2 separate regions of the Homo sapiens genome follow, and region 1 is reported to be linked to region 2. The links are microRNA targets in miRTarBase. Many come from high-throughput screens and were not tested one by one. Region 2 holds a microRNA gene; the other region holds the end of a gene's coding sequence.

Region 1 (15,193 bases), not on the chromosome of region 2:
GAAAACTCTTCTTGACTCATGTCCTCGTTCTGAGCTTCACAGAGAGCGCCCAGCAAAAAAAAAATTCATATCGCACGTTGTAATGGCCTGAAGATGTTGCATTTAGCAGCCCCCCTCTTCCTTTCTGGTTTCAGGTTTCTGAAACAGATCGTGAGCTTCATCAAGAGAATTCAACTGGAAAACCAAGACTGGTAGACTCTCTTTTTCTTCAGACAATAGGCAGGAGCCAGGCAGAGTCCAGGGATTCTTGGAACACCTATCTTTTCTTCGGAGGACACTAAGTTCTATTTGAAGACAAAGTTCAATATGGCAACAGGACTGATGGGACACGAAGGAGTCGCTACCGTGATTTGGTGACAGTTCTTCAAAACGACAGTGTCTCAAGGAAAGGTGGACCTAGGAACTCCTGAACTTTTGGGTTGCCTTAAGTGAGAAATCAGCATGGCTCAGGTAAAAAGCTCTAGAGTCCTCCTCCAAGATAACTGGGAAGCCTGTTTGCAGTTTCACTCTTGAATGCTGCCTTAGTCAACATATTGACCAACCCCAGTGATCCAAGCTCTGTATTAAGCACCAGGGGGAGATCTAGAGGAAGGAAAGGAGACAGGCCACAGCCCCTGCCTTCAGGGAGCTTCCAGTCAAATGAAGGAGGTAGGCTATACTGCATCACAGGCACTGATGGGACATTTGCAAAGCAACGTGTACTCAGTTTACATTTGGTACATTAAGTGCTGAGGGGTGTAAGGGAGTGAATAGTACGGTGAATGCTTCTTTTGTTTTTTTCCAACAGGAATTTATTGAGTTCCTGTTGCATGCAAGGCATTGTGCTGGGAATACAAAGATGAATACGATTGTCCTTGTCCCCAGTGAGCTTCCAGGCTAGTTGGGGTCGGGAGAGGGATGGAAAGCCATTTATTTTTATATTCACAATGCCTTGTATAGTGGCTGGCTAGTAGTAGAGACTCTGAATCTGTTGATTGAGGAATGTGCAATAATAGGGGTATGTACATAGGAGAGAACAGTACTTCTGCTTGGATAGAAAAAGAAGATGGAGGTTGAAAGATGCATAGGATTTTGCTAAACAAGCGAGAAGGGTGTTTGGACAAAAGGAACAGCATGGGCAGGAGCTTAGAGTCATGGGAAAATGTGATGAGGTTCCGAGTACTGCAGGTTGTTTGATAGTTACGGAGTAAGGGATTTAAATGGGGATAGTTATGGAGGTAGTATTGACAGTGATAGGTGAGGAAGTTGTTCCCTGCAGTAAGCAGAGTGTAACCCAAAGGCCTTTTATGCCTCGCTAAGTTAAGCAGCAGAGTAGCATCAGATCAGTGTTATGTAGAAGGTCATTATTGTGGAGGTAGAGGATGGACTGGAGAGACAGAATGAGCAGATAGGCTGTTGTAGTCATCTGAGTAGAATAGCTATGTGCACACATCTCCAGAGCTTCTCCCAGCTTGCTTCTAGGGAACCTCCCTACCAGTCTCACCAGGATGGCAGTCTGATTGTAGTATAATTGGCTTTCCTCCAGCTGCTTCTGAATGCACAGCTTCCTCCTTTCCATATAGAATAGGAGCCTGTCAGTTTCTTCTTCCTTTGTGTTTTGCAACCCACTTCTCAGCATTGTATTCAGTCTTCTGAGAATGCTGCCTTCCACTAAGGACTGAACTTTGTGCTAGACACTGTTAAGCGTTTTACGTCTTAGTTTACTTTTCATCAACCCTGTAAGGATAAGCATTATGACAGGCATTTTTCATGTAAGGAAACTAAGGCTTGCAAAGGTGGAATAACTTGCCCAAGATTATAGAGTGCAAACAGCTGAGCTAAGATTTTAACTCTGGATCTTTCACTCCAAAGTCCCAGAAGGTGGAGGGAGGGGTCCCAGAACGTACTGATCATCTAAAAGGAATTTCTTCATAAATTTGTGAGTTTGCTGACCAACGATTTCTTAAAATTTTTTTTTTCAGTAAGAAAAGTATTTTCTTTAATGCCGGCTAACCGAAGTCAGTTTGAAGAATGTAGCAGTTTTCTGGAAATTTACTTAAACATACCTTACTTAAGTAATTGTTTAAATTATATATGGAGCAAGGAATGTGAAAAAAAATGTGATCATACAAGCACACATATAAATGGCCTAAGAGGTCAAGAGAAATGCTGAACTCCAAAAATCATATCAGTTGCAATTGGTAAATACTTAGGGAGTTTAAAATCTAAAGGGAGAAATAGCCTGTAGTCCCAGGACCTTAGGAGACTGAGGCTGGAGGATTGTTTAAGCTCAGGAGTTCCACACCAGCCTAGGCAACATGGTGAAACCCCGTCTCTATAAATACAAAAAAAAATAGCCGGGTGTGGTGGCATTCTCCTGAAGTCCCAGTTACTCAGGAGGTAGAGGTAGAAGGATCGCTTAAGCCAGGGAGGTCAAGAGTGCAGTGAGCCGAGATCGTGCCACTGCACTCCAGCCTGGGCGACAGAGTGACACCCTGTCTCAACCAACAAGCAAAAAATGAAACAAACCGATAGAAAATACAGTTGGCACCAGCAAGATCTGCCAATCAAAAGTGGGCTCTGAAGCTAAGGGGTGTGTGTGTGTGTGTGTGTGTGTGTGTGTGTGTGTGCGCGCGCGCGCTCTGAAGCTAAGGGGTGTGTGTGTGTGTGTGTGTGTGTGAGTGACGGAGGGATTCTCGCTCTGTTGCCCAGGCTGGAGTGCAGTGGCGCGATTTCGGCTCACTGCAGCCTCCGCCTCCCGGGTTCAAGCAATTCTTCTGCCTCAGCCTCCCGAGTAGCTGGGACCGCAGGTGTGTGCCACCACACCTGGCTAATTCTTGTATTTTTAGTATAGACAAGGTTTCACCTATTGTCCAGGCTTGTCTCGAACTCCTGACTTCGTGATCCGCCCGCCTCATTCTCCCAAAGTGCTGGGATTATAGGTGTGAGCCACTGCACTCGGCCCAGCTGAGGGCTGTTGAGGGAGGAAGGAGGAAGGTCCTGAAGGAATCTCCTGTGTCAGTGGGTTAGCAAGATGGAACCTCATACCCACTCACAGTTAAGGCCTAGAAATACCTTCAAAGAAATATGTAGCCACACACTGCCTAGTGCTGATGACAAAGGTGTCAGTAATACTTGATTATTTACTTGATCTATATTTAAATGCTGAAGGATGACAAGATAAGTCGTTCCTGGTGAGATGAGTTAGGGAGGACTCTTGAAGGAAGCAAGGCTTTGGCAGTGAGGAGGGACATTCCCTGGAGAGAAGCAGTTTGTAGCAGGGTGTAAAAGGTAGTTCTATAGAGGATGGCAGTCTGTTTTTGCCCTGCCCTGCCAGGTGACCTGACACCTCATCTCCTTTCAACTTAGGCAAGTCTCCTGGCTTGTGAAGGCCTAGCAGGTGTGAGTTTGGTTCCCACTGCAGCCAGCAAGAAGATGATGCTGAGCCAGATTGCCAGCAAGCAGGCCGAGAATGGCGAGCGGGCAGGTAGCCCTGATGTGCTGAGGTGCTCGAGTCAGGTACAGCGCTTGAGTCCATTGTGGCACCTGGGGATCGGGTGGCCCAAGCTCTCTGCCAGGAGATACCAAGCTCTGATTCCTTGATGCTTCCTCATAGGGAAGTGGGGCAAGGGGATCCAACTGGGGAATGGATGAACATTGGTATTTCAGAAAGCTAAGGAAGGTCTTTTGTGTGCCTTCAACTCTTTTAAGACCAGGTGCTTGGAGAGGAAATAGTTGTATACTTCCTCTAAGCTTTCGGGGCAGGTGGTTTACTCTCATTTATGAATTTTGTCTGAGAGCTGCATTGGGTCTCATCTCATGTTCCGAGATGGGCTATGAGTTTAGATTTGATTTGTCTTCAAAGGGTCACCGAAAAGACAGTGATAAGTCCCGGAGCCGCAAAGATGATGACAGCTTGTCTGAGGCCTCTCATTCAAAAAAGACTGTTAAAAAGGCAGGTAATGGGGTGATCCCCCAAACTCATACAGTTTGGTAATGGGGTAATATTCCTCCTTCTTCCCTCTACCATGTAACCTGGAGCTTTCCCTAGATGCTTTGATCTCTGATAGCCAGTGAGTGAGTCCCCCAGATTTCATCCAGAGACTACCTTGGTAGTTGATCTCCTGCCTTGCTGGAACAGTAATGGTACAGGTTGGGGAGCATGAGATCCCAGATCCCGAGGCATGGGAGCAGGCAGGCTCCAGCTCAAGTCATACTCAGACTGCTGGGTTTGACAGGATAGACAGCTTACCCACTCCACCTCCTTCCCCAAAGGGTCTCTTACCTCCATGGAGTACAGGAGATGGCAGCACCTTTAGACAGCATCAGAGAGGTTCCTTTCTCCAACAGCTGGAAGTGGACCCAGAGTAGAACAGTGTCTCCAGGAAGAGGGCAGTGGTGGCCTCATGACATGCCTGATTATTGCCCCCAGGTGGTGGTAGTGGAACAAAATGGTTCTTTTCAAGTAAAGATTCCCAAAAATTTTGTTTGTGAACACTGCTTTGGAGCCTTTCGGAGCAGTTACCACCTAAAGAGGCACATCCTTATTCACACTGGTAAGTCTCTTGTTTATATTCAAAAGGGGGAGAATAGTCTATCGCTTGTATTCCATGTCTGTTTGTGGCTCTAGTTGGGTTTATTTTAATGGGTAAGTATTAGAAATGAAGGAAGAAGATAAGTCAATGAAGCAGAGAGATTGCATGGCTTTGTATCTGGTGTCACTGAGACCAGCACCTTTGGGGACCTCTCCCCATTTATGATCACTTAGGTGTCTACACATTACTAAGAGTTAAAGTTTCTGAGAAAACTGGAATGAGGTCCCTACTGTACATACCTCCCCACATTCACTTCTCTGTCCACCTGGGCCAGGTGAGAAGCCATTTGAATGCGATATATGTGATATGCGTTTCATCCAGAAGTACCACCTGGAACGCCACAAGCGTGTGCACAGTGGTGAAAAGCCTTACCAGTGTGAACGGTGTCATCAGGTAAGGCTCATCCCTGCTACAATACCCCACACACACTTTTCCTTCCCCAAGAATCAGGGCCACCCTCCACTCCTGCCTGACAAAAGAGCCACCAGCGTTACTCGCCATAATAGTTAACACATCGGGGTGAAGTGCATCTGTCTGGCCTTATGCAGCTGATCATGGGGAGCAGCAATTAGAACATTGTAATAATAATAATAATAGCATTCCATATCACTTACTCTATGCCAGGCACTGTGAGAGCATACTTTACATAGATGATTTTATTTAATCCTCACATTGACTCCCTAAGGTAGCTGTATTGTCCTTATTTCACGTATGGGAAAATTGAGATTCAGAGAAGTTAAGTTTCCCAGGGACACCGCAGATCACGAACAGAGCTGGGATTCAGTCCAACTTCAGAGCTAATGCACTTTGGAGGAAGAGATACAATCTTTGCCCTGGGGGTCAGTATCTGATCTGATGAGAATGTAAGAGCTGGGGCCAAAACAAGACAAGAACAAGAGATGAGAAATGATAATAGCTAACACTTCCTGGATGCATTGCTAGGTCCCAAGCTTTGCTCTGCACTCTTACACTGAATCTTCAGACGCTAGAATAAAAGCTCCATGAGGGCAGAGACTTTGTTCCTCTGGTTCTCTACTCTGTATCTGCCTTGAGATAGATACTCAATAAATCTTTGATGAATAAAGCAGCTGTGCTGTGAGTAGGTACTTTTAGCCTCGCTTTGCAGTTTTGCAGATGAGTATGCAGATTCTGGGCTGTTAGGTAACTTGCCCAAGGTCACACAGCTGCTGAGTGATAGAGCCAAGATTCAGCCCCAGGCGGTCTGGCCTGAGAGCTTGGATTCTCCACCACCGTGTGCTCCTGCTGTCTGTGCACGTGCTGAGGGGATGGAGAATGTGGTATCTGCCTCCTGTGAGAGGAATGAGTTAGCCAACAGGTAGCTGCGTTTGTCTGCTCAGGCACTTAACCCTCCCTTTCTTCTCAGTGTTTTTCTCGGACAGATCGATTACTCAGACACAAACGGATGTGCCAAGGGTGCCAGTCCAAGACTTCCGACGGGCAGTTTTCTCTATAGGCGCAAGGGGCCCCGGGTGGTGGGAGTGATCAGAAGAACCTGCCGAAGAGCACACCCCCTCTGGTCTGATGGTCCCACCACCGCCCCATGTGAACCTGTCCCACTCCTGGAGGAGTGGACCCAGGAGACCAGAAGAGTGCATCAGGGGACAGTGGCCCCAGAACCTCAGCTCTGTAAATAATCTGAGACTATGAGTATCTCGGGGAAGTTCTTACAGCATTCCTGGGTAGGGGAGCTAGTCCCTGGACCCTTGGCTGAGGTCATAGGTGGGGACTCAAGGTACAGGACCAAGACTGAAGTGTGGCTCCCACAACCTTGGACTCCAGCTGGCAGCTGAAATGGAAAAGATTGGGGAAGGGGATTTGTTTGTTCTGTTCTTGTTTTTGTTTATCCAAAAGCAACTTCAGCGGGTAAACTGTGGATACAGGTAATCCAGAGGCATAAGAGTCCTGGTCCAAAGTAGGGACTATAGCTGGTCCAGCTCTCCCCAAAAATTGGGTTTTTAGTTGCAGTAGCTCCTCAGTGTTTCACAATCCTGCACTTCGCCTCCTTTTTGAGGAAGAATAAGGTCAGGAATGGCAGCTGAGCTTACTTTGGCTTCCTTATACACTGTAGGGACAAAAGGAAAAACGGGGTGGAGCAGACAAGGGCTGGATCCAAAAAGTGGATGGCACCTCTTCCTTCCTCAAGGGAAAAGGAAGAGTTGTGCCAGTGGGTGTTGTCATGGCCCATGTCACATTGGCACCTGATGGCATCAGCTCAAATGCCTTTAGGAGGAAACTTGGGTGAGAGTGGCCCATGAAGCCCTTTTCTTCTTTTTTTGGGGAGTCGGTCTTGGAGATGGTATGTGGCTACCTCGCTGCCATTGACTCCTAAAGTGAGACAGATGTGTTGAGCAAGGAGTCATGGAAGTCAAAGTGGGTTCTCTCTCCTTGTGCCCTCTTAGGAACAACCCAAGACTGGTCCCAAGTTGGCTAACAGCTGCTCAAGAAACAAAGGAATCTGGGGTCTTCTGACATGCCTGTTGAGCAGTAGGAGCTGTTCTCCCTCCCCAAGTCCTATCACTGTATTCAGGTAGAGGAGGTAGGGAGGGGTCTGTCCTTTGGTCCCAAAAAACAAGATCTCGGCTTGCTTCCTGATGGCCATCCCTACCCAACAGAGTGTGGGGGATGGGGGTGGGGGTGCTGCAGAGAAAAGACTAAAGAAGAAACCTAATGTAGGTTCCATTCTTAACCATATTCTTTGCTCCTCTCTGCTCCAATACCACCACCTTGTCCACTCCCAAAAAAGTAATCGGGTGTGTGTGTGTGTGTGAGAGAGAGTGTGTGTGAGATATGAATGCATGTATTTGTATGCTTGCAGGAGATGGCATATTATTGAGCCAAACCCTTCTCTGGCCCTCACCTTCAGGGAGGATGAGTGGAAAATAGCCTCCTCTTGCCCAAACATGAAGGGTGCTTGAGGTCTCAGCAGGAGCTGAAGAACACAATTTGGGGAACAGAAGGGCTTTTGTTTTGGAGGGTTTTTTTTTTTAAGATGAATTCAACAGCCTGGTGGTTAGGATGTTTCTAACCCAAGCCAGGGCTTGTGAACATGAATTTTCTAAGGTGAAATAAACCTTTTCTTTCTGCTAAAGAAAGAATCCTTATGGGAAGTTTTGGGGTTTGGTTGACCCCCACTGTAACCTGACCTGACCTGTGGCGGGTACGGGAACTGTCTTAGTAATCATGGAGACTGGCTGAACCTGAGTGCCAAGCTGTCAGTAGGGTCTGAGATGGGAAACTCCTGAAAGTATGATTTCATTTCCCAGAAAATGTAAAGAATGGATACCAGCAATGATTCCTGGCTGTTACCTATTCTGGAGGGGTGGGGTTGGGGAGGGGGTTGTCCATACCTCTGTGGTATGAGTATTTCAGGGAAAAAGAAAGCAGGCATGGCACCCATTCGATTTTCCCTGACAGCATCTGAGATCCTTTTGGGGAGACGCTGAGGAGTGTTTGCTGCCATGTACTCTTACAGCTCTATGCTGACACTCCCATTTGATGTGGTCCAGAACTTAGACCTCAGTCCTTGGATCAGCCCTGTGGTCCCTGCAAGCAGGGGCATCTTTCTGCATGTGAGCCAGCCCCCTTCCTGTTCAAGGGTTCTGCTGGATCTGGGCTTTTCCTGTCCTTCACTTCTGGGATGATTCACCCCACATCTTCCAGTACCCTGTAAACCATTTTAAAATATTTAGAAAACTATCCTCCCAAAAATGCTTTTGAAAATGAGAGCCCTCTGTCCCTGCCACTTACAGCTAGTCTCTTTGGGATAGGGGTGTATGTGGAGAGATTCATGTAAGTCTCACATGAGTGACCTGTGCCCCTATGTGTACTAATGTGTGTACTGGGTCAGAAGGTGCCCTGGGTTCCCACAGACCTTGGTTTCCTGCCTGGGTGGGTGGGAGGGAGGGAACTTCAGAGAGTATGTGCGAACAGCCATAGCAGAGCCACCCCTGCCAAGGACCCAGTGAGGGAAACTCAGGAGCAGGTGGTTGGTTCAGTTCCCGCGCTGATGTCTGGGGCAGTGCATGTGTGAGAAGAGAGGCGCAAAGCAGTGAAAGGAGTGATTTGGCATCCAGAGGGCCCGGGAGCCCCACGGATACCCCAGGGAAGCCACTGACTCACACCGCTGCAGAGGCTCCTGGGCCCAATGCCCGACCCCTGCTGGCCAGCATGGGGCCTAGCACTGGAAGATGCCTCAGGTGTGTTTGGAGTGGGGGAAACGGAAGTAGGGCACGCTCTCAGAGACCAGGATAGAGAGTCAGGGAACCTGGGAAAGAGTAGTGCCAGTTCCGGGTAGGCTGCTGCACCAGGCCCTACCAGCTCAGGCTATAAACAGTCTGCTTTGCCCCAAGTCTTTTCCGTCCACCCCCAACAGCCTTGTCATCACTTAGCTACTGATCACGCCCATGGCTTGACATTGGAGGGTTACATTAGTGGAGTCCGCCACAGCTTCGAACCCTCTCCCCAGATGCCCTTTGCCTCTGCTGTGGCCCTGGGGTTTTATCAACTGTCCCCTTCCTATCCTCCTCTCCACCCTGTTTTTTGTTTTTTTTTTTTTTAAATAATATTTTGCTATGGGGGAGGGGAATATCAAATGGACAAGATCACTTTTAAATGGTAGTTTTTATAAGATGTTATAAACTTGTATCTTTTTACCATTAAAGTGCAGTGTATGTTCCTTCGTGATATATTTAGGATATTTAAATAAAAGGAAAATGGGGCTTTTCTACATACTATCTCCTCTTTGGGGAAGCTTTTTCATACTGGTTTTAGTTGTTTTCCTTTTTTCTCCCTACATAATCACCCCACAACTTCCAGCACCCTATAAGCCATTTTAAAACCCCTTCTCCACAGAGGAACAAGCAAGTAGGAGCAAAAACAGGGCATCAGTTCTGAGCAAGACGAAAAAGCACACGCAGCAGGACGGAAGGAGGCTAGACACCAACAGATGCAGTGTCTCTGACCTGGGACCCCCCTGCATCCGCAGCACTTGAGAATTCATAGGCCCTTTCCAGACCTGGCTTCCTGGGTCCCAGGGTGCACCCCGGGAGTTTCCTGCACATTCGCGCTTGGGCACCTCTCCCTGCCCTCAGGTGGCAAGAGGAGGATGGACAAGAGCTTTCCCGAGGCCCAGGCTATAAACAGTCTGCTTTGGCCTTGATGAGGTAAAGCAAAGTGACAGCTGTGGTCTGAGGTAAGACTTTATTGTATACTTGGGTGGGGTAGCCCAGATGGATGCAAGGTTGCAGGCATGGGAAGCAGCCCTCTTGGGTGTCACTCTGAAAATGAAGTAGGGTGGTGGCCGCACCTCGCCAGTGAATTAGTCCCCTACCAAGGTCTTACAGACCCACCCTTCCTCTCACCCTCCAGTTCCCACTGTCCTCCAAGGAGAAGAGCCTTGGGTAAGTGTCCCTCCCTCCTTCAGAGAGTGGGACTGTCTGCCTCTTGAAAGCGAGGATTGATGGTGGTCGTGATGGCACTTTTGTAGAGAGGATTACTGTCCTGGAGAAAGATGTTGCAGATTATAAGCAAAAATCCCAGGATTCCTCGTCCCCTTTCTAGACCTAAGAGGCCAGCCTTGAGCCGAATCCTAGGAGCTGATGGAAGTTAGCAGAGGGGTTGGTTACATGTGCCAGGGGCTGGGGGAACCCAGTGGGAGGAATCAGGGCTGGTCTTGTGGTGGGGGAACAGCTAAAAAGGGGCCTAACCAGGAAGTCTCCTCACCTGCTTCCAGTTGAGTTGTTGCTGCTCCTTCTCAAAGCGACTGTATTCCCGGCGGTCATAGATTTCCACCGAGAGCCGGTAAGCCAGGACCAGCCCCAGCCCCACTGCCACGATGCCCCCTACGCAGCCCAGCACAATGGCCTGCGTGTGGTCTGCTCCCTCTGTGAACAAGAAACCAGACACACTTGTGGGAGCTGGAGCATAGGGACAGATCATCAGTTGCTCACAGTGTGTCCAGCCTGTCCAACCCTGTCTGTCACTGAAAGCAAAGGGAACCCAGGGAGGTCCAAGGTTATCCTCACCGCCCAGGGCCTTAGCCTCGTCCACTTGCTCAATTGCCTCTGCCTTTGTCCTGGATTCACAGTTCTGCTTCAGCCCCCAGCCTGTTTCCCATTATCTTCACTCTGCATCCCCAGAGTTGAGACCCTGCCCATCAAACTTCCAGGGTTTGTGGCATCCCTGCCCACTTACTTTCTTGGGGTCTCACTCTGAGCACGACCGTGCCTCTGGCGTCATCCTCCACCAAGAAGAAGAACAGCTGGTTGTCCAGGGTCCGCTCTTTGCACCAGCCATCATCCAAGATAGGGGCCAAGGCCAGGGTCACATTGGTATGGGCACAAGCTGTACTGCAGTTGGTGGCCAGTGGGCCAGTCCTGAAGGCCCCACACTCTGCACAGTCCCTGTGTAGTAGATGCCAATAGGTTACCAGCTGGGCAGTTGTCACCCAATGCCCCTTGCCCAACTACAAGCAGGACGGAGAGTAGGCAGATGGGAGTAGCTCAACAAGCCCCACTGTGCCCCTGCTCCCAAGATGCAAGACCTGAGGCCTCACCGGTGTCTCTCGCATGGTGTCTTGCAGCCTGGGCATTGGTCGCATAGAGCACCATAGTAGCCGTCCAAGCACTGGCAGCGGTTGCATTTGCAGCGTCCATGCCCACTGCAGAGCCCTCCCTCGGGACTGATGCAACTGTCCATGTCCCCACTGCATTCGCATGCTCTGCCCGTGCGGTTGGCATGACAGTGACATACTCCACATTGGCAGCGACCAAAGCCTGGGGTAGAGCCATGCAGAGGGTGACAACCATACTCCACACACACAGTTGGCCATCATGTGGCACGACAAGCCCACGCATCCAATCTTTTTGAAGTATGCCAACCACACCCTCTAACCCATACACCGGAATCTTTTGATATTTGCCTTCCATGCCAGGAGATTCCCAGAGCCTAAGTGCCTTGGGAAGGCCTCTCAGACCCCGCCCTTCTCCCCAAGGCTCCAGGTACCTCCGCAGAGGATGCCCTCATGTCGCTCACAGCTGGCATCGTCACACTCGCACAGATGCCCAGAGCTCTGTCCACTGCAGCTGCAGCGTCCACATTGACAGTGACCCTTTCCACTGCACAGGGGCCCTGTGCCATTGGGAGCCCGGCACCCAGATTCCAGGTCTGGGGAGGACAGCTCTGCCACAGAGCACTCACAGAGCCGACCTAGGCGGCCAGGGGCACAGCTGGAAGGGGAAGGCAAAGGAGAGAAGTAGGTCAGAGGGTTTGATCACCCCTGACTTGTCTCTCCCAGGAACCTCTAAACCCAAGTTCTCAAAAGAGTTGGAGACAGACAAACAGCTGAAAGGATGTTAAGTATAGTGAAACACTGAGGGGTGAGAGAGTGGAGGGAGCCCCAGTCAGGGGGAGGGCCTGGACATACATGGGAAGCTTCAAGGGATGAAACTGAGTGGGGAGTCGGGATGTCGAGGAGACTCCTGTGGGGGGGATGGAAAGCAGCGGAGGAATACGGGCCAGGGTTGGTTGGTTGTTGGGAGCCAGGTGGTTGAAGGGAAGAGGAGGCCCTCACCTGCATACACCACATTGTAGGTGTCCCTGGCCATCACTGCAGTGGGGAGCCTGGGGCTGGGTGTCACTGCAATTACAGTCACACAGCGTGTGCAACTCCACAATCAGCTCCTCTGAGAAGCCAAGGGCCCGGAGCCTCAGGAGATGGGGCTCTGGGAGGCAGTGGGTGGCTTGGAGAGAAACCCAGAAAGTCACCTGAGAAGAGGCAGGAATCAGGCCATGGTTATACACATGCACACACACATACCCCAAACTCACCAATCATCCAGAACCTCACCCCTTAGTAAATGAAGGGATGGGGTCATGTTAACACCCAACTCCTAGAAACATGCCTGAGGAAGCCACTCAGACTGCTCCAGGAAGGATGGATGGAGGACTACCTCAGGCTCTCATGTCACTCCCTGTACCTGCCACCCATCTTTTCCTGCCTGCTTAATTTCCCACTCCCACCTCCCCCTGCCCGCCTTCTGCCTGTGCTTGCTGGCTCTCACCGTCTGGTTGATTCGGACGTGGTTGCACTGTCCTCGATCCTCAGCCTTACCCTCCCTCTTCTCAGGACCCTCACACTGGGATTCGTAAGAAATGTGGACCCCAGGAGGGAGTGAAGAGTGTTCAAGGGTCACGGTGGAAGACAGGCTCTATGGGAAGAGAGCGAGTGGATAACCACGTGAAGGCAGAAAAGGACTCCAACCCCACCTTATGTCCTCTCCAGGTGTTCCCAATTCTGCCAGCACCCTGCCCTCTGCCACCTGGGGCTCCTTCCATTCTGCCCAGTCGAGGCATTTCTGGAGGGAGGACCCGTGAGAACCTTGCATAGAACATACAGGATCCAGAGGCCTCTAATACAGCATTTCAGTGCAGCTGCCAGCAAGGGCCACTGAGGGTCACAGGCTGGCCAGGTGCTGTAAATGTACAGAGACCATGTTTGTGAAGCCCCACATCAGGACACATAACCTGGGTGCATGCCAGGTCTAAAGGGCAGATTCATTACAGAGTTTATCTTGGGAAATTTGATACTGTCTCAGATTTTCTTGCCATAGGTTTAGGAGATGCTCCCTGTTATCAAGAAGCCTACAGCCTAGTTGCAGAGGTAAGACCTAAACCACTAAGAATTTTTATGGTTCCTTCTACCTGTAAAATTCTATGGTTCTTGTGAAGAATAGCTCTGAATTATTTATAAACTTAGTGAAAGCAGGCTCCAGATCTCACATTGTTTATGTACAGACTGACTGGGGACAAATGCCAGCCCTTCTGTTTGTTATCTTTGTGACCTTGGACAAGTCACTTAGCCTCCTTGTGTGGGTTTCCTCATCTGTAAAATAGGGATGGTAACAGTTATGAAGCAAGGCTTTTGGCAGGGTTAAATGAAGTAGCAAACAGTATGTACACCTAGGATGGTGGGCGCATGAAATAAAAGCTCAGTGATTGAAACTTTCCTTTCTTGCCCAGAGCAGAGCTCCATGCTGTCTGCATGTCAGATGTTTTAAGATTTATGAATGTAAGATTGAACAGTTAATGACAGCCACATGCAGACTATAGGTAGGAGCTGTGGAATGTTAGACCAAAAAGTGACCATTTCCTCTTAGTTCTGCCACCCCACCCAAGGGCCCCTTTCCACCTTTCCCTAGTGCCCACCCTCACCATCTCCCCTTCCCCTGGCCCCTCACATTATAAGCATCCATGATGAGCTGTACCACGTTGCTGGAGTCCTCACTCAGCTCCCCAACTGCAGACTTAGGAATCAGTTTACTCAGCTCCTGAGTTTTGGGGAGTTAAGGGAAATGGTGGGTCACAGCTCTAGGAAAATGGGCTCCCGGAGGTCTGGAAGGAGGGCATATGGGGGACGGAGAATGTATCTTTGGGGGAATTGAGAAAGGTTGGGATGGGGCTGGGGGATCTGACATGTAGACAGCTCTCACCTGGTAGACAGGCAGTGCGGCACTGGTGACAGCAAAGATGGGCTGGATATTTGCTGCAGAGAGGGCCTGGGCTACCTGACCCACAGAAGGGTAGTCCTGGGACAGGGAGCAGGGACAAGGTGAGCCCCACAGGTTTCCCCCACAACATGCAAGGTGCCCTCAGCCCAGGGAATCCAGGAACCAAGGTTCCACCAGCTGGAGGAGCCCTGGAGGCTTGCTATGGAATAGGAAGGAGGTAGGGAATGGGGTGACAAAGGTGTCCTGTCTCGGCAGCTGAAAGGAGGAACTGCTGGAGAAGATGGCAGGGTGTCTACAGGGTGGTTACTGGTGAGGACTGTAAGGCTGGGAGTGGGAGTCCTGGAAGGAAAGAGGTGTGGCTGAAATGGGGAGAGGCAGGGTGACAATAGGGACTCACAAACTCTGTGCTGCGACTGTAGAGGCCATTGCTGTCCAAGTGGCAGTGCCCATCACTGGGCATGAAAATGCCGCCCAACTTCCCGTCCCCAGCTGTATGGAATGTGTCGTCTGAAGTGAACACCAGCAGCCGGGACACATTTCTCCAGCCAATCTGCTCCTGAGTTACAGTGGGGGTGGTAGGCTATGCACCTGGGCATGGCCCTTGAGCCACCCCAGCCAGCTCTGTGAGCCAAGAATGTGGCCAGCCTCACTCTGAGTCAGCTTGTCCATCCCCTTGCCTCCAGTACCTTGCTTCTCCCTGCTCTCTCCAGCCCCCTAAAGAAGGCTGCTGCTAGTGGAGGCTTACTTGTGAATTCGAAAAACATGCCTCCTCCTCAAGATATTTTACTCCAACCCACCAGGTAATTGCTAAATATACAAACTACAGCAACTATGGTATGAATGGCACCCCCTAGAACTGTGCACTACACAACCATAAGGGGCAGTCCTGTTCCCAAACAGACCTCCAGGCTCAGATCCCCGCCCCACCTCCTCACCTGGCAGAGTGCAGCCTGCAGAATGGCATCGAAGCCACCTTCAGGCGAGTCCAGATTGCCGGACACACTCTGGCGCCCCACCTCCCGCTCGAAGGCTTGTGCGTCCCCCGTCAGGGACAGCACATGGTGAAAGCTGAATGGTGACTGGCAGCGCTCC
Region 2 (15,193 bases):
GGATACTAGATATGTTTACTATCTTGATTTGATGATGGTTTCATGGGTGTACACATATGTTGGAACATATCAAATTATGCACTTTAAATATGTGGTTTGTTACATGTCAGTTATACCTGTAAAGTTGTGTTTAAAAGTGGCTTGACCATGAAAAGACATGAAGAAATCTTTAGTGCATATCACTAAGTGAAAAAAGGCAAACTGAAAAGTCTGCATACTTTATGATTACAAGTGTATGGCATTCTGGGAAAGGCAAAACTATGGAGACAGTAAAAAGATTAGTGGTGGAGAGAAGGAGGGATGAATACGCAGAGCACAGAAGATTTTTAGGGCGGTGAAACTATTCTGAAGATACTACAGTGGTAGCTACATGTTATTATACATTTGTCGATACCCATAGAATATACCACATCAAGAGTGAATCCTAATGTAAACTGTGGACTTTGGGTGATAATGACCTGTCAGTGTAGGTTCATTGATTATAACAAATGTACCAGTTTAGGGGGGCTGTCCATAGTTGGGGAGGCTGTACATGTGTGAGAGAGCAGGGTGTACATGGAAACTCTGTAATTGCCTCTCTGTTTTGTTGTGAACCTAAAACTCTTCTAAAAAATAAAGTCTTTTTTTAAAAAAGAGGATAGAAGATTTCTGCCAGAAACCTGAAGAATTGCATATTTTACATTTAAAAATGGGGGGAGAGGAAGGTAAAGTCCAGAAACTATATATTGAAAATCTTGACACTGACTGATTCCTAGAAAAACTATAGACCAGCTTGCCAAGTGCTTAGTGATTTGTAATTAGAAAAGAAAGCACTGATTACTAAGACCCAGAATTTGTTTAAGAACAAGTCATATTAAGCTAACTTCATGCTTACTTTGCCAAAGATGTAATAGTATTTGTATGATACTCTTTGTATAGTACTACTTTATAACTTACAGAGTACATTCCCATTTATTATTTTATTTAACCCTGACAACATCCCTTTCAATTCGTGTAAGATGAGAAAGACCTCAACAGTAATAATCCCAGGAAGGCGCAAAGGGGACAGATGTGAGAGATTTTAGAAAGGCCTTGTGTAGTTATGGATAAAGGAGAGGGAGGAATCAAAGCAGGCTTTAAGGATTCTAGATTGTCTGAGGGTGAATGGGGATGCAGATAATTACTCGTAATTTAAAAAATACGGGTGGAGGAGTGGATTTGGAGATGTGAAATCCATCAGTTTTCTTCAGTTTGGTGGAATTAGCTGTTTTATTTCCTTTGTTGAAACTGAGTCAGATATAGATACATTTAAAAAAAAAAAAAGGCCTGGTGCTCAGGAGAGAAGCCTAAACCCAATAAAACAATTTTCATTTGTTCAGTAAATATATTCTTTCAAATACTTTTGGTAATGAAGGGAGGTTAGTGGGTAGAAGCTTGAGGAAGTAGATGTGATCATTGGGAAGGTTTGTCTGTTTTAAGGATGGAGAAGCCAAGGACACTTCAGTGGATTGAGGGAAAGGGACCATTGAAGAGGAAGAAAATTGAAGTCACAAGAGGTAGAAGATAATTGATCAAATGTAACGAGAGGAAATGGAAGAGTCAGGTCCAGGAGGACAAATGAAAGAGTTACCCTGAAGAAGAGGAATGATGTATCTTCCTGTTTAAAAACGAAAAGGAAATGGGGTAGATATAGATATAAGTTAGTATCCAGGATGACATCTCTTTTTCTCTGTGAAGCAAGATTATCTGCTGAGATTGAGAAGGAAGAACATGGGTTGGAGTATGCTTGAGGGGAAAATAAAAGTTACTATTGAGATTGTAAAAGGGACTTAACTAGGGGCATGTGACTTCTTTGCTGAATCATGATGAATACCCTTCCAGGCTTGAAATCACAAATGTACAGAGGCCAGCAGGATGGTTAAGCAGTGTTCTCCAGCAGCCTGCCTGCTCCCACTCCCCTTCCCTGCCCCCCATAACAATGCAGAAAACAAATAGACTGAACTTGGACCACTCCCCTTCCCCACCCCCATAACAATGCAGAAAACAAGTAGACTGAACCTGGATTGAGATTGGAAGGGAAGATGTGATGGAAAACTTGAGTAGGGGGTAGTGGGAAGTCAAGGAATAGAGAGTGGTAATGAGGCTGCTAATTGAAGGGTTGAGCCATAGGAATCCTGCTTATTAAGGAACAAAGCCAAGCCAAGACAAGGCTGGTAAATGTGGATAATGAAGAGGATGAAGAATCTAAATGAGTCAAGTGCAGGATTAATGGAAATAAAAGAGTACTAGAGATGGAAAAATTGGCACATAGATGTGAGAATTCTCAATTTAAGATTCTGGAGTTAGCAGTTTCAGGTGATGATAAGGGCCAAAGAATGACCAATGATGGGTGGATAGCCAAGATTAATAGTGCTAATTATAACAATATTAATATTAATAAAAACTACTATTCATTGAACACTGTGTAGTAGTCACTATAGTAAATATTTTCCATAGGTTATCATGCTTATGTTTCACATATTAGTATCAACATTTTACAGATGAGGAAACTGGAGCTCAGTGAGATTGAGTAACTTTTCCCAAGACTCACAGCTACGAAGTACCTGAGTCTTTCTGAGTCCTTCTAGCATTGAAGCACTTATGCCTGACTACTAAACCATGCTAGCCTTCTGCAAAGTAGGGGTCATTGAAGAAGAAGGCAAAGAGCATTAAGTCTTGTGTGTTGGAATCAATTGTTCTTATGGATAATGAAGTCCCCAGAATATATAGCTTCTGTGTGGAAAGGAAGATAGTCATACGACAAAATTCTCAGTAAATGGAGATGGCTGACTCAAAGGTCAGTAGGTGACAACTATAAATATAGCTATAATGTAATCTTAAAAGTGGATAAAATCGAATAACAATGACTTACAAGTCATCTTGGGAAACTAGGAGAATACTGACTTGTCTTCCTGGCCCCCAAAGTGATGCATATGAAAATATTAACCATTCATTTCTTAACCCTCTCTTCTCTCTTGGCTTGTGAAATTTTATATATATATGTGTGTGTGTGTGTGTGTGTGTGTGTGTGTGTGTGTGTGTGTATTTACATATGTTTGTGTATATATACGTGTGTGTGTGTATATATATACACCTGTGTGCACACGCGCACACACACCCACAGACACACCCCCCTCTTTTTTGGTTTTCCTCGTACCCCTCTAACCACTCCTCTTCAGTCTCATTGGCTGGATTCTTCTTTGCCAGCTCCTTCATGTTGGTGAGCCTCTGGATTCTCTCCTCCTCCTCATTTCTCTTTCTTTGTGCTTTCCTTTGATGATCTCATCTATTTCTAAGCTTTCATATACCACCTATATGTTAATGACTTCTGAATGTTCATCTAGAGATGAATCTAGAACTTTCTTCAAATCCCAACATCCTTATATAGGAAGATGTACCCAGAAGAAATAGCCCATGATATTTCAGGGCAATATCATGTGACTAGAGAAAGTCATCTTAGGCTAGTAATCTCCACTCATGCCCATCTAGTTGAGGGCTCAATTCACTTATTTTCAACATCCACAACCATTTCTAAGGTGATAGCTTCTCTGGTTACTTATCACTGGTATGACCAAACATCTTGATTTGCCTAAGATGGCTCTGGTTTATGCCTATTGTTCAAGACCAACCTGGCCAACATGGTGAAACCCCATCTCTACTAAAAATACAAAAAATTAGCTAGGTGTGGTGACGCACACCTGTAATCCCAGCTACTGAGGAGGCTGAGGCATGAGAATCGCTTGAACCTAGGAGGTGGAGGCTGCAGTGAGCCGAGATCGCACCACTGCATTCCAGCCTGGGCGACAAGAGTGAGATTTCATCTCAAAAAAAAAAAAAAAAAAAAAATCAGTATATCCTGTGTAACTTGTAAGAGCTGCTTATATCCATCAGCTCACTCTTATCCTACTTTTCATATTTAAGTGTCTAGACTTCATTGTACCTTTACTGCATTATGACTTAGAGTTTGTTCAAGATTAAAATCTTTTGCCATTTCCTGAATTTCTGCTTAGTGATGCTTCCAAAGACAGTAATACTGATAATTAGTCTTGAAATATTTCTCTATTAGCCTTATTTAAACATTTTGGAGAATGTTTCTAAAGTCATTTGCTCCACATTACTGAAATATATTTATTTTCTCTTCACCTTATTTTTTAAAAAACAGAACCCAGTAAGGCAGTTTTGATAAAACCTGATTATGCACAGTTTAAGGAAACATTGAAGATGTATAATTTTAATCTTAAATTAATGTTGATACTTACTACATTTTCTGAATGTTGTACTCTCATAAAAGTTCACAACCCAAAGAGGCATTTAGAGATCATCTAGTTTTTGTTTTTTAAATATCTGTAAGAATAATGGGCATCAGAAAGGTTAAGCACCTTGCCTGAGATCCTAAAGAGAACAAGGCAAAACAGAAAACTGAGAATCTCTTGACTTTTAGTCTACTATTCTTTCTGTTATACTACCAACCATTTGAAAATTTTAATGTATTTTAAGAAAGTGATCTCATAACCAAAAGATGTCTGTGCATCATAGAAACCCATAGTGTTTGGTTTTCAATATGTAATTTCCTTATTTTACCCCTTTAACTTTAACCCTTTTTCTTTATACAAGTCTACATTTAGACCACAGTGATAGAAACTACCGAGTATGATAGAAACTACCCAGTGTGGTAGGGAAAAAAATTATGTGGGTGGAATTTGAAATGCCTGTGCTCAGAAAATATTTATATATATTTCTTTCTTATTTCTGTTCTGTGCTCTGCTCCCCTAACTATCCATCTTCACACATGGTTATAGAACAGTAGATTCAGCCACCAGATCTGAGTTTGAACTTGTGGTTATCTTTCTTGGTGTGAAATGTTTTATAACAGTAAACACATTTTTCTGTAATTGACTGCCTCAATTATTGTTTTTTCTTTCTTTTGAAGGGAAGCTAATTTTTTTGTTTCTTAAGAATTATGAAATAAGAGGAAACGTGCTATCTATACGTGCAAGGTGTATTTAAAGCTTATAAATATCTGTGTTCAGTATGTCTAAAACTTATTTTGCAGAATCTTCTAAAACTTATTTTGCAGAATCTTTAACCTTATGCAAAATATATATGAAAAAAGTTTATTATTATAGTACAGCTACATAAATTATTTTTATTATTTTCATTTCACATTTAGGATAAGGCTCCAAGCTGTTTTTAGCATTCCTCAGGAGGTATGGAAAACTATCATGCTTATAATTGATTTTCAAGAACTTTTAAACTGTATGCTTTGGATTATCTTTAACAGTATGAATAAGCATCCAAAATTTTATTGCTGAAGGTTTTTGGTTTTAATATGAAAAATGTTTGGTAAGGTTTTTAAGGTGTTTCGGTAGTGCCTTAAATGCTAATTGTGGAATAGAGAGTGGCTTTTGTAAATGTGTCTGTTTCTCAGAGCCTTACCTGGGGGAACATTTCCTAAAGGTATTTGAATATTAAAATGTTTTCTATCAAAGTTAGTATTAAATGAACTGGTGTTTATTTATTGAACTCTTGTATCTGTGGTACTGTGTTAGATGCTCATATTTTTCTGATCAAATAAGATCTGGTTTCCTTTCTTAAGAAAAGTATAATCTAGTTTTAAAAGAAACAATACAGTACAGTGTGGTGAGTGATAAGATAGAGGCATATGGAAAAGTAATTAATTGGGAATTAATGGGAATTTCCATAGCAACATGATAAAAAATTAGTTGAGAAAGTGTATACCCTTTGAAGGAATTGCAGGGTGGTACAACGTGTTATGTGTTGGGAGTTTGGAAAAGCTAAATTGTAGCAGGTATTGCATACTTTGATAATAAGCAGTTGGGATCTTCTTCCCTATGAATTGGAGTGACATTTGTCATTCCAAGGGATATGAGTAACATTTTTAGTGGTAGCATATTTAGATTAAACAGAAAATAGACCAGACAGTGTGATCAAGTAGGAGGTTGTTAGTATTGCAAGTAAGAGAGGAGTTGAAGGTCTAAGGATGCTTAGGTGTAAGATTAGGGGGAAGGACCAGATTCAAGGTGATGATGATAATATCTAATAATAATTGATTTTCCTGCAATCTGCCAGGCACTGTGCTATGCATTTTACATGAATTATCTCGTTTAATGTTGATATTCGCAACAACTACAGCTACTCTTATGAACTCAGTTGTATAGATGAGAAACTGAGGCTTAGAAAGAGGAAGTCGAGTACCCAAGGTCATAGAGCAGCAGATGCAGAGGTGAACCAGTAAGTGGTCAAGAGGGAGAATTGACTAGGCACTAGATGAAGTGCTATTCTGGTTTCTCACCTCAGTCACTGGGTAGAGGCCATTTACTGAAAGAGGAATGAAGAAGGAAGAGCTGGCTTATTGGAGAGAGAAGTCAATGTCTGCTTTGGAGAATAGAAATTTGTATATAGAATACAAAGGGATTGCATGAGTCTGAATCCTGGCCCTGACACTTAGTAACTCTGTGACTTTGAGCAATGACCTAACCTTACTGTGCTTCAGTTTCCAATATGTGTCAACTAGGGATAATAATGTTACTTAGGAGATTGTTAGGAGGATTAAACTAACTACTCTACTTACCTAGAGTGCTTACAATAGTGCCTGATGTGTAGTAATTAATCACTGTAGGTGTTAGCCAGATTATCATCATCATCATCATGCTATAAAAATCCAAAGGTCTCTTTTGAGGAGGGATGTAGTAGTCAGTGTAAAACATCTAGCACATTCCTTCTAACAGGGATAGAAAGCCGGGGAGATGATTTACCTGGATGAACCTTCATAGTTCCTTTAAATGCCGTCTCTCTCTCTATAGCTACAATATCTCAGAATTTCTACCCTTTTGCGGTGCTCAGGGCCAAACACAGGTTCTTCCTGAGATATCTGGTTGCCGAATTTGTTTGTTTTTAGGAAAAATGAACTACCTGTTGAAAGGCTTAAGTTTGGTGCGTTTTAGTGTGACTTCCTCTGAATTTCTATTAAAATTTTGCCTGGCTGCCCTATGCCTGAGTTTCCTTTATTTCCTGGCCAGCTTTGTTCTGCAAGGAGCCAGAGTAACCTCTCCTCCCTAGGTCAGCGCCCCAGGTTTCAAGGCAGCCGGAATGGCATGTTAACCAAGATTTCATGGGCTTGGGGAGAGGGGTAGCGAAATAGGCAATGTTGTTTATTGACACCCTGAAATATGAAAAAATAATATGTACACCTTTCTGGGCCATTGCTGTCTTAGATTTCCATTCTTCCCCCAGAACTACTGCCTTACTGCTGTTATACATGTTTTTTTTTTTAGTTTTCTTTACACAATTCTACATAAATTGGAAATATTTCATTAAACACATTTTTCTACTTTAACTTAGCTTAAATGCATAATACAGAATAAATATAGGAACAGCACAACCATTTATTTCCATATTCACTAGTTAAGGATTATTATATTCCCACATTTTAAATATAGAACATCTAGTTCAGAGCCAATTCTTAACCCTCCGATGCTGAAATTTCTGATGCTCTTTAGAGCTGAAGGTGTTACTTCTTGTTAAAATGTACATACTTCTTTTCAAGAGGAGCAACATTTTTCTTCCAAGTCATTTACTTTTTGGTATAAATGTACAATGTGGAAACATGGAAAAAGATAACAAAGCTGTAAAACATCTTGAGAAGTTTGTGGGGGGGCAAGAAGTTTGTGGTGCTTGGAGGCGTGCCTGGGAGTTGGCACTAAGTACAGCTGTAATTAGTCAGTTTTCTGTCCTGTCCACACAGAAAACCGTCTAGTTACAGTTGTAAGTTGTGCCAGACCTAATCGCTAAAATGCTCTGAAAGGTAGAATTCTGAAAGATATAGTTTGGTTGTGAGTAGTCTGTCAAAAATTGTATGCAGTATTAGGAAAAACATTGGATAGGACTCTGCAGACCTAGCTGTTAAGTCCTCTGACTTTTGGGAAATCTCTTAACTGCTGTCTGCCTTAGTTTATCTGTAAAATTTTGAGGGAGGTGATATGGTCATTAACCCAGAGATCGTTTAACTCTCTGAAAGTTGATTGTAGAATGGATTCTCATTTTAAAATAATTTATTAAATGCGAACTCTGGCAGTTTTCCTTTATTGTCAATCAACTTGTCACTTACCTCAGTATTAGTTGAAAAAATGTCTTTTGAGTATGGCAGTTACGTCTTACATATGACTGTGTTCCAGAGGCTCATTTCTAAGATGGTTGTTGAGAATGTTTAGAATGCATAAGATTTGCCCTTACAGACAAAATAAACTACAGTATACTTGAGTGTTGCATTGTGAGACTTCCCCGGGAAAAAGGTCCGGCAAAGTGCTGAGATTACCTCAACATGTCTAACTGGCTTACTGTTTGCCTTACGTGGTACTATCCTACTTTTGGGGCCCTTTCCCCAGATTGTTGGAGCTACCACAAATGGCTTTGAGGTACAGGAATCTCTTCTCCCTCCCTGACAGGCAGGGGGCTGGGGGAGAATGGGGCAAAACATATTGCTAGCAATTCAAGTTGGAACTCTGAATTCATTTTCCCATTGAGGCATGAGTTGTTACTAAGATTCTGTAGGGTCTGTAGTTAAAAGCCTTAACAGCATTTCCTTCCTGAAGCTGTCCCAATGTTAGTATCTACGGAACTGGAGACCACAATCTTTATTTCCTAAGAATACATGACATCTTGACTTCTAGTCAGATGCTCCTTAATGCACTCTTCAGAGAAGCAAGTTCAGTATTTGTCAAGAAGGGCCTGGGCGCTAAACAACTGCTATCATTTCTTTTAAAGTTAATAGATTCAATGAAAGTTGAACATACCACGAAGTATGGTGAGTAGTCAATAAATATGGGATCATGATTTGTCTTATGGAAGATTTCAGTTTGTGAAACCATTTATATTATTGTTAAATTGGTTTTCATGAATTTTCTTATTCAGTTATTTAATTTAGAACTTTAAGTGTCATATCTTTCCCTGATCTGCATTTTAAATTCCAAGAGGAATTTGATCACACAAAGCCCATTAAATATTTTAATTTCCCCTATTTAGTGAGTACCAGATTTTGCTTCAGTATTCTCGAGAGTGTATTTATTATCCACTATAAAATAGATTATAAAGGTTTTTATATTAATAAAAGTAAATATATAAAAATAATATTCCTAATGAACTTTGTTTTGTCTTTAGTTAGGAATCATTCTTTTTTTGCCAATAAACCTTTTTATTTTTATTATTTTTAATTTTTCCATCAGTTATTGGGGTACAGGTGGTATTTGGTTACATGAATAAGTTATTTAGTGGTGATTTGTGAGATTTTGGTGTACCTATCACCCAAGCAGTATACACTGTACCATATTTGTAGTCTTTTAATCCCTCGCCCCCCTCCCACTCTTCCCCCCAAGTCCTCAGAGTCCATTGTATCATTCTATGCCTTTGCATCCTCATAGCTTAGCTCCCACATATCAGTGAGAACATATGATGTTTTGTTTTCCATTCCCAAGTTACTTCACTTAGAATAATAGTCTCCAGTCTCATCCAGGTCACTGCAGATGCTGTTAATTCATTCCTTTTTATGGCTGCATTGTATTTCATCATATATATATATATACACACACATATACATACATACTTACATACCACAGTTTCTTTATTCACTTGTTGATTGATGGGCATTTGGGTTGGTTCCACAATTTTGCAATTGTGAATTTTGCTGCTATAAACGTGTGTAAGTATCTTTTTCAAATAATGACTTCTTTTTCTCTGAGTAGATACCCAGTAGTGGGATTGCTAGATCCAATGTTAGTTCTACTTTTAGTTCTTTAAGGAATCTCCACATTGTTTTCCATAGAGGCTGTACTAGTTTACATTCCTACCAGCAGTGCAGAAGTGTTCCCTGTTCACCACGTCCATGCCAACATCTACTGTTTTTTGATTTTTTGATTATGGCCATTCTTGCAGGAGTGAGATGGTATCACATTGTGGTTTTGATTTGCATTCCCCTGATCATTAGTGATGTTGAGCATTTTTTCATATGTTTGTTGGCCATTTATATATCTTCTTTTGAGAACTGTCTATTCATGTCCTTAGCCCACTTTTTGATGGGATTGTTTTTTTCCTACTGATTTGTTTGAGTTTGTTGTAGATTCTGGATATTAGTCCTTTGTCAGATGTATAGATTGTGAAGATTTTCTCCCAATTCTGTGGGTTGTTTGTTTACTCTGCTGACTGTTACTTTTGCCATGCAAAAGCTCTTTAGTTTAATTAGGTCCCAGCTATTTATCTTTGTTGTTATTGCATTTACTTTTGGGTTCTCTGTCATGAAATCCTTGCCTAAGCCAATGTCTAGAAAGGTTTTTCCAATGTTATCTTCTAGAATTTTTATAGTTTCAGGTCTTAAGTTTAAGTCCTTAGTACATGTGTAGTTGATTTTTTGTATAAGGTGAGAGATGAGGATCCAGTTTCATTCTCCTACATGCGGCTAGCTGATTATTCCAGCATGATTTGTTGAAAAGAATGTCCTTTCCCCACTTTATGTTTTTGTTTGCTTTGTCAAAGATCAGTTGGCTGTAGGTATTTGGGTTTATTTCTGGGTTCTCTATTGTGTTCCATTGGTCTATGTGCCTATTTTTATACCAGTACCACACTATTTTGGTGACTATGGCCTTATAGTATAGTTTGAAATCAGGTAATGTGATGCCTCCAGATTTGTTCTTTTCACTTAGTCTTGCTTTGGCTATGCAGGCTCTTTTTTGGTTCCATATGAATTTTAGATTTTTTTTTCTAATTCTGTGAAGAATGATAGTGGTATTTTGATGGGGATTGCATTGAATTTGTAGATTGCTTTTGGCAGTATAGTCATTTTCACAATATTGATTCTACCCATCCATGAGCATGGGATATGTTTCCATTTGTTTGTGTCATCTGTGATTTCTTTGAGCAGTGTTTTGTAGTTTTCCTTGTAGAGATCTTTCAATTCCTTTGTTAGGTGTCTTCCTAAGTTTTTTTTTTTTTTTTTTTTTTTGGAGCTATTGTAAAAGGGGTTGAGTTCTTTTATTTGATTCTCCACTTGGTCGCTGTTGGTGTATAGAAGAGCTACTGATTCGTGTACATTAATCTTGTATCCAGAAACTTTGTTGAATTCTTTTATCAGTTCCGTGAGCTTTCTAGAGGAGTCCTTAGGGTTTTCAAGGTAAACAATCATATCATCAGCAAACAGTGAAAGTTTGACTTCCTCTTTACTGACTTGGATGCCCTTTATTTCTTCCTCTTGTCTGATTGCTCTGGCTAGGACTTCCAGTACTATGTTGAAGGGGAGTGGTGAGAGTGGGCATCCTTGTCTTGTTTTAATTCTCAGAGGGAATGCTTTCAACTTTTCCCCATTCAGTATTATGTTGGCTGTGGGTTTGTCATAGAGGGCTTTTATTACATTAAGGTATGACCCTTGTATGCCGATTTTGCTGAGAATTTTAATCATAAAGGATGCTGGATTTTGTTGAATGCTTTTTCTGCATCTATTGAGATGATCATGTGATTTTTGTTTTTAATCCTGTTTATGTGGTGTATCACATTTATTGACTTACGTATGTTAAACCATCCCTGCATCCCTGGTATGAAACCCACTTGATCATGGTGGATTATCTTTTTGACATGTTCTTGGATTTGGTTAGCTAGTATTTTGTTAAGGATTTTAGCATCTGTGTTCATCAAGGATATCGTTCTGTAGTTTTCTCTTTTTGGTTATGTCCTTTCCTGGTTTTGATATTAGTGTGATGCTGGCTTCATATAATGAATTAGGTAGGGTTCCCTCTTTCTCTTTCTTGTGGAATAGTGTCAAAAGGATTGGTACCAATTCTTTAAATGTCTGGTAGAATTCTGCCGTGAATCTGTCTGGTCCTGGACTTTTTTTTTAGTGGTAATTATTAAATTACCATTTCAATCTCGCTGGGTCTGTTCAGGGTATCTCATTCTTCCTGATTTAAGCTAGGAGGGTTGTATTTTTCCAGGAATGTATCCATCTCTTCTAGACTTTCTAGTTTATGTCTGTAAATGTATTCGTAGTAGCCTTGAATGATCTTTTGTATTTCAGTGGTGTCAGTTGTAGTATCTCCCATTTCATTTCTTAATGAGGTCATTTGGATTTTCTCTCTTCTTTTCTTGGTTAATCTTGCTAATGATATATCAATTTTATTTATCTTTTCAAAGAACCAGCTTTTTGTTTCATTTATCTTTTGTATTTTTTTTGTTTGTTTCAATTTCATTTAGTTTTGCTCTGATCTTGGTTATTTCCTTTCTTCTGCTGGGTTTGGGTTTGCTTTGTTCTAGTTTCTCTAGTTCCTTGAGGTGTGACCTTAGATTGTGCTCTTTCAGACTTTTTGATGTAGGCATTTAGGACTGTGAACTTTCCTCTTAGCACCACCCTTGCTCCATCGCAGAGGTTTTGATAGGTTGTGTCATTATTGTCATTCAGTTCGAAGAATTTTTTAATTTCTATCTTGATTTCGTTTTTGACCCAATGCTCATTCAGGAGCAGGTTATTTAATTTCCATGTATTTGCATGGTTTTGAAGCTTCCCTTTGGAGTTGATTTCCAGTTTTATGCCGCTGTGGTCTGAGAGAGTGCTTGATATAATTTCAGTTTTCTTAAATCTATTGAGACTCGTTTTGTTGCCTGTCATATGATCTATCTTGGAGAAAGTTCCATGTGCTGTTGAATAGAATGTATATTCTGCAGTTGTTGGATGAAATGTCTGTATATATCTGTCAAGTCCATTTGTTCCAAGGTATAGTTTAAATTCATTGTTTCTTTGTTGACCTTCTGTGTTGATGACCTGTCTGGTCATTGGAGTATTGAAGTCCCCCACTATTATTGTGTTGCTGTCTCATTTCTTAGGTCTATTAGTAATTGTTTTATAAATTTGGGAGCTCCAGTGTTAAGTGCATATATGTTTAGGATTGTGATATCTTCCTGTTGGACAAGGCCTTTTACCATTATATAATGTCCCTCTTTGTCTCTTTTAACTGCTGTTGCTTTAAAGTTTGTTTTGTCTGATGTAAGAATACCTTGCTGGCTTTTGGTGTCCATTTGCATGAAATGCCTTTTCCCACCCCTTTACCGTATGTGAGTGCTTATGTGTTAGGTGAGTATCCTGAAGGCAATAGATAGTTGATTGGTGAATTCTTATCCATTCTGTGGTTCTGTATCTTTTAAGTGGAGCATTTAGGCCATTTACATTCAATTTTAGCATTGAAATGTGCGGTATGGTTCCATTCATCATGCTCCTTGTTGCCTCTGTACTTTTGTTTGTTGTTGTTTTGTTTTTGCTTTTTAACTTGCATTTTTGTTCTATAGGCCCTGTGTGATTTATGCTTTGAAGAGGTTCTGTTTTGATGTGTTTCCAGGATTTGTTTCAAGACTTGGAGCTCCTTTTAGCAGTTCTTCTAGTGGTGGCTTGGTGATGGCGAATTCTCTCAGCATGTGTTTGTCTGAAAAAGACTGTATCTTTCCTTCATATATGATGCTTAATTTTGCTGGATACAAAATTCTTGGCTGATAATTGTTTTGTTTGAGGAGTCTGAAGTTAGGGCCCCAATCCCTTCTAGCTTATAGGGTTTCTGCTGAGAAATCTGCTGTTAATCTGATAGGTTTTCTTTTATAGGCTACCTGGTACTACTGTTTCACAGCTCTTAAAATTCTTTCCTTCATCTTAACTTTGGATAACCTCATGACAATGTGCCTACGCGAAGATCTTTTTGAGATGAATTTCCCAGGTGATCTTTATGCTTCTGTATTTGGATGTCTACGTCTCTAGCAAGGCCAGGGAAGTTTTCCTCAATTATCCACCCAGATATGTTTTCCAAGCTTTTAGAATTCTCTTCTTCCTCAGGAACACTGATTATTCTTAGGTGTGGTCATTTAACATAATCCCAGACTTCTTGGAGGCTTTGTTCATATTTTCGTATTCTTTTTTCTTTGTCTTTGTTGGATTGGGTTAATTCGAAGACCTTGTCTTCGAGCTCTGAATTTCTTTCTTCTACTTGTTTAGTTCTATCGCTGAGACTTTCCAGAGCATTTTGCATTTCTAAAAGTGTGTCCAAAGTTTCCTGAATTTTTTATTGTTTTTTTTCTTTATGCTATCTATTTCTTTGAATATTTCTCCCTTCACTTCTTATATCATTTTTTGGATTTCCTTGCACTGGGCTTCACCTTTCTCTGGTCCCTCCCTGATTAGCTTAATATCTAACCTCCTGAATTCTTTGTCAGGTAAATCAGGGATTTCTTCTTGGTTTGGATCTATTGCTGGTGAACTAGAGAAATTTTGGGGGGGTGTTGAAGAGCCTTGTTTTGTCATATTACCAGGGTTGGTTTTCTGGTTCCTTCTCATTTGGGTAGGCTCTGTCAGAGGGAAGGTCTAGGGCTGAAGACTGTTGTTCAGATTCTTTTGTCCCACGGGGTGTTCCCTTGATGTAGTATACTCCTCCTTTTCCTATGGATGTGGCTTCCTGTGAGCCGAACTGCAGTGATTGTTGTCTCTCTTCTGGGTCTAGCCACCCAGCGAGTCTCCCTGGCTCCAGGCCGGTACTGGGGGTTGTCTACACAGAGTCCTGTGATGTGAACCATCTATGGGTCTCTCAGCCATGGATACCAGCGCCTTTTCTGGTGCAGGTGGTGGAGGGTGCAGTGGACTCCGTGAGGGTCCTTAGCTTTGGTGGTTTAATGCTCTATTTTTGTACTGGTTGGCCATGTTTTAATGCTCTATTTTTGTGCTGGTTGGCCTCCTGCCAGGAGGTGGCGCTTTCCAGAAAGCATCAGCTGTAGTAGTACAGAGAAAGATATGCGGTGGGCAGGGCCCTAGAACTCCCAAGATTAAATGCCCTTTGTCTTTTGCTACCAGGGTGGATAGGGAAGGACCATCAGGTGGGGGTGGGGCTAGGTGTGTATGAGCTCAGCAGCTCCTTGGTTGGGTCGTGCTGGGGCTGCTGTGGGGAATTGGGGGTGAGATTCCCAGTTTACTGGAGTTGTGTACTTAGGAGGATTATGGCTGCCTCTGCTGAGTCATGAAGGTTGTCAGGGAAGTGGGGGAAAGCCAGCAGTCGGAGCCCTCACCCAGCTCCCACGCAAACAGAAGGGCCACTCTCACTCCCACCGTGTCCCCCCTAACTGCCGGGAGTCTGTTTCCAGGCTGAGG

What was found. The annotated mature microRNA hsa-miR-1537-5p reads AGCUGUAAUUAGUCAGUUUUCU and lies in region 2 at 7,747-7,768, shown strand. An mRNA with a match to its seed (bases 2 to 7 or 8) in the 3' UTR can be bound and repressed. Matches are read on the target gene's strand: a 7mer-m8 pairs with bases 2 to 8, a 7mer-A1 pairs with bases 2 to 7 and ends in A, and an 8mer does both.
Region 1: the mRNA of ZNF740 is a reported target of hsa-miR-1537-5p. Seed matches in the 3' UTR shown: 8mer at 6,260-6,267, 7mer-m8 at 8,062-8,068, 7mer-m8 at 8,339-8,345 and 7mer-A1 at 13,008-13,014.

Annotation. Positions count from the first base shown.
Region 1 is chr12:53,181,543-53,196,735 of GRCh38, forward strand. It overlaps ZNF740 (zinc finger protein 740), which reads left to right. Exons shown (of 7, transcript NM_001004304.4): 2 at 135-450; 3 at 3,349-3,498; 4 at 3,845-3,934; 5 at 4,412-4,535; 6 at 4,849-4,967; 7 at 5,959-13,600. The coding sequence starts at 442. The coding sequence ends at 6,048. ITGB7 (integrin subunit beta 7) reads right to left here. Exons shown (of 16, transcript NM_000889.3): 6 at 15,037-15,193; 7 at 14,499-14,657; 8 at 14,084-14,179; 9 at 13,832-13,921; 10 at 12,656-12,802; 11 at 12,166-12,359; 12 at 11,598-11,821; 13 at 11,149-11,368; 14 at 10,788-10,996; 15 at 10,317-10,477; 16 at 9,781-10,094. The coding sequence ends at 10,014. Among named protein-coding and RNA genes, the nearest start is that of CSAD, 8.2 kb to the left of the region's middle. RefSeq lists silencers at 1-197, 8,543-8,837.
Region 2 is chr1:235,845,612-235,860,804 of GRCh38, reverse strand. MIR1537 (microRNA 1537) reads left to right here and starts at 7,745; the gene lies at 7,745-7,805. The region is part of intron 1 of LYST (lysosomal trafficking regulator); the gene reads left to right.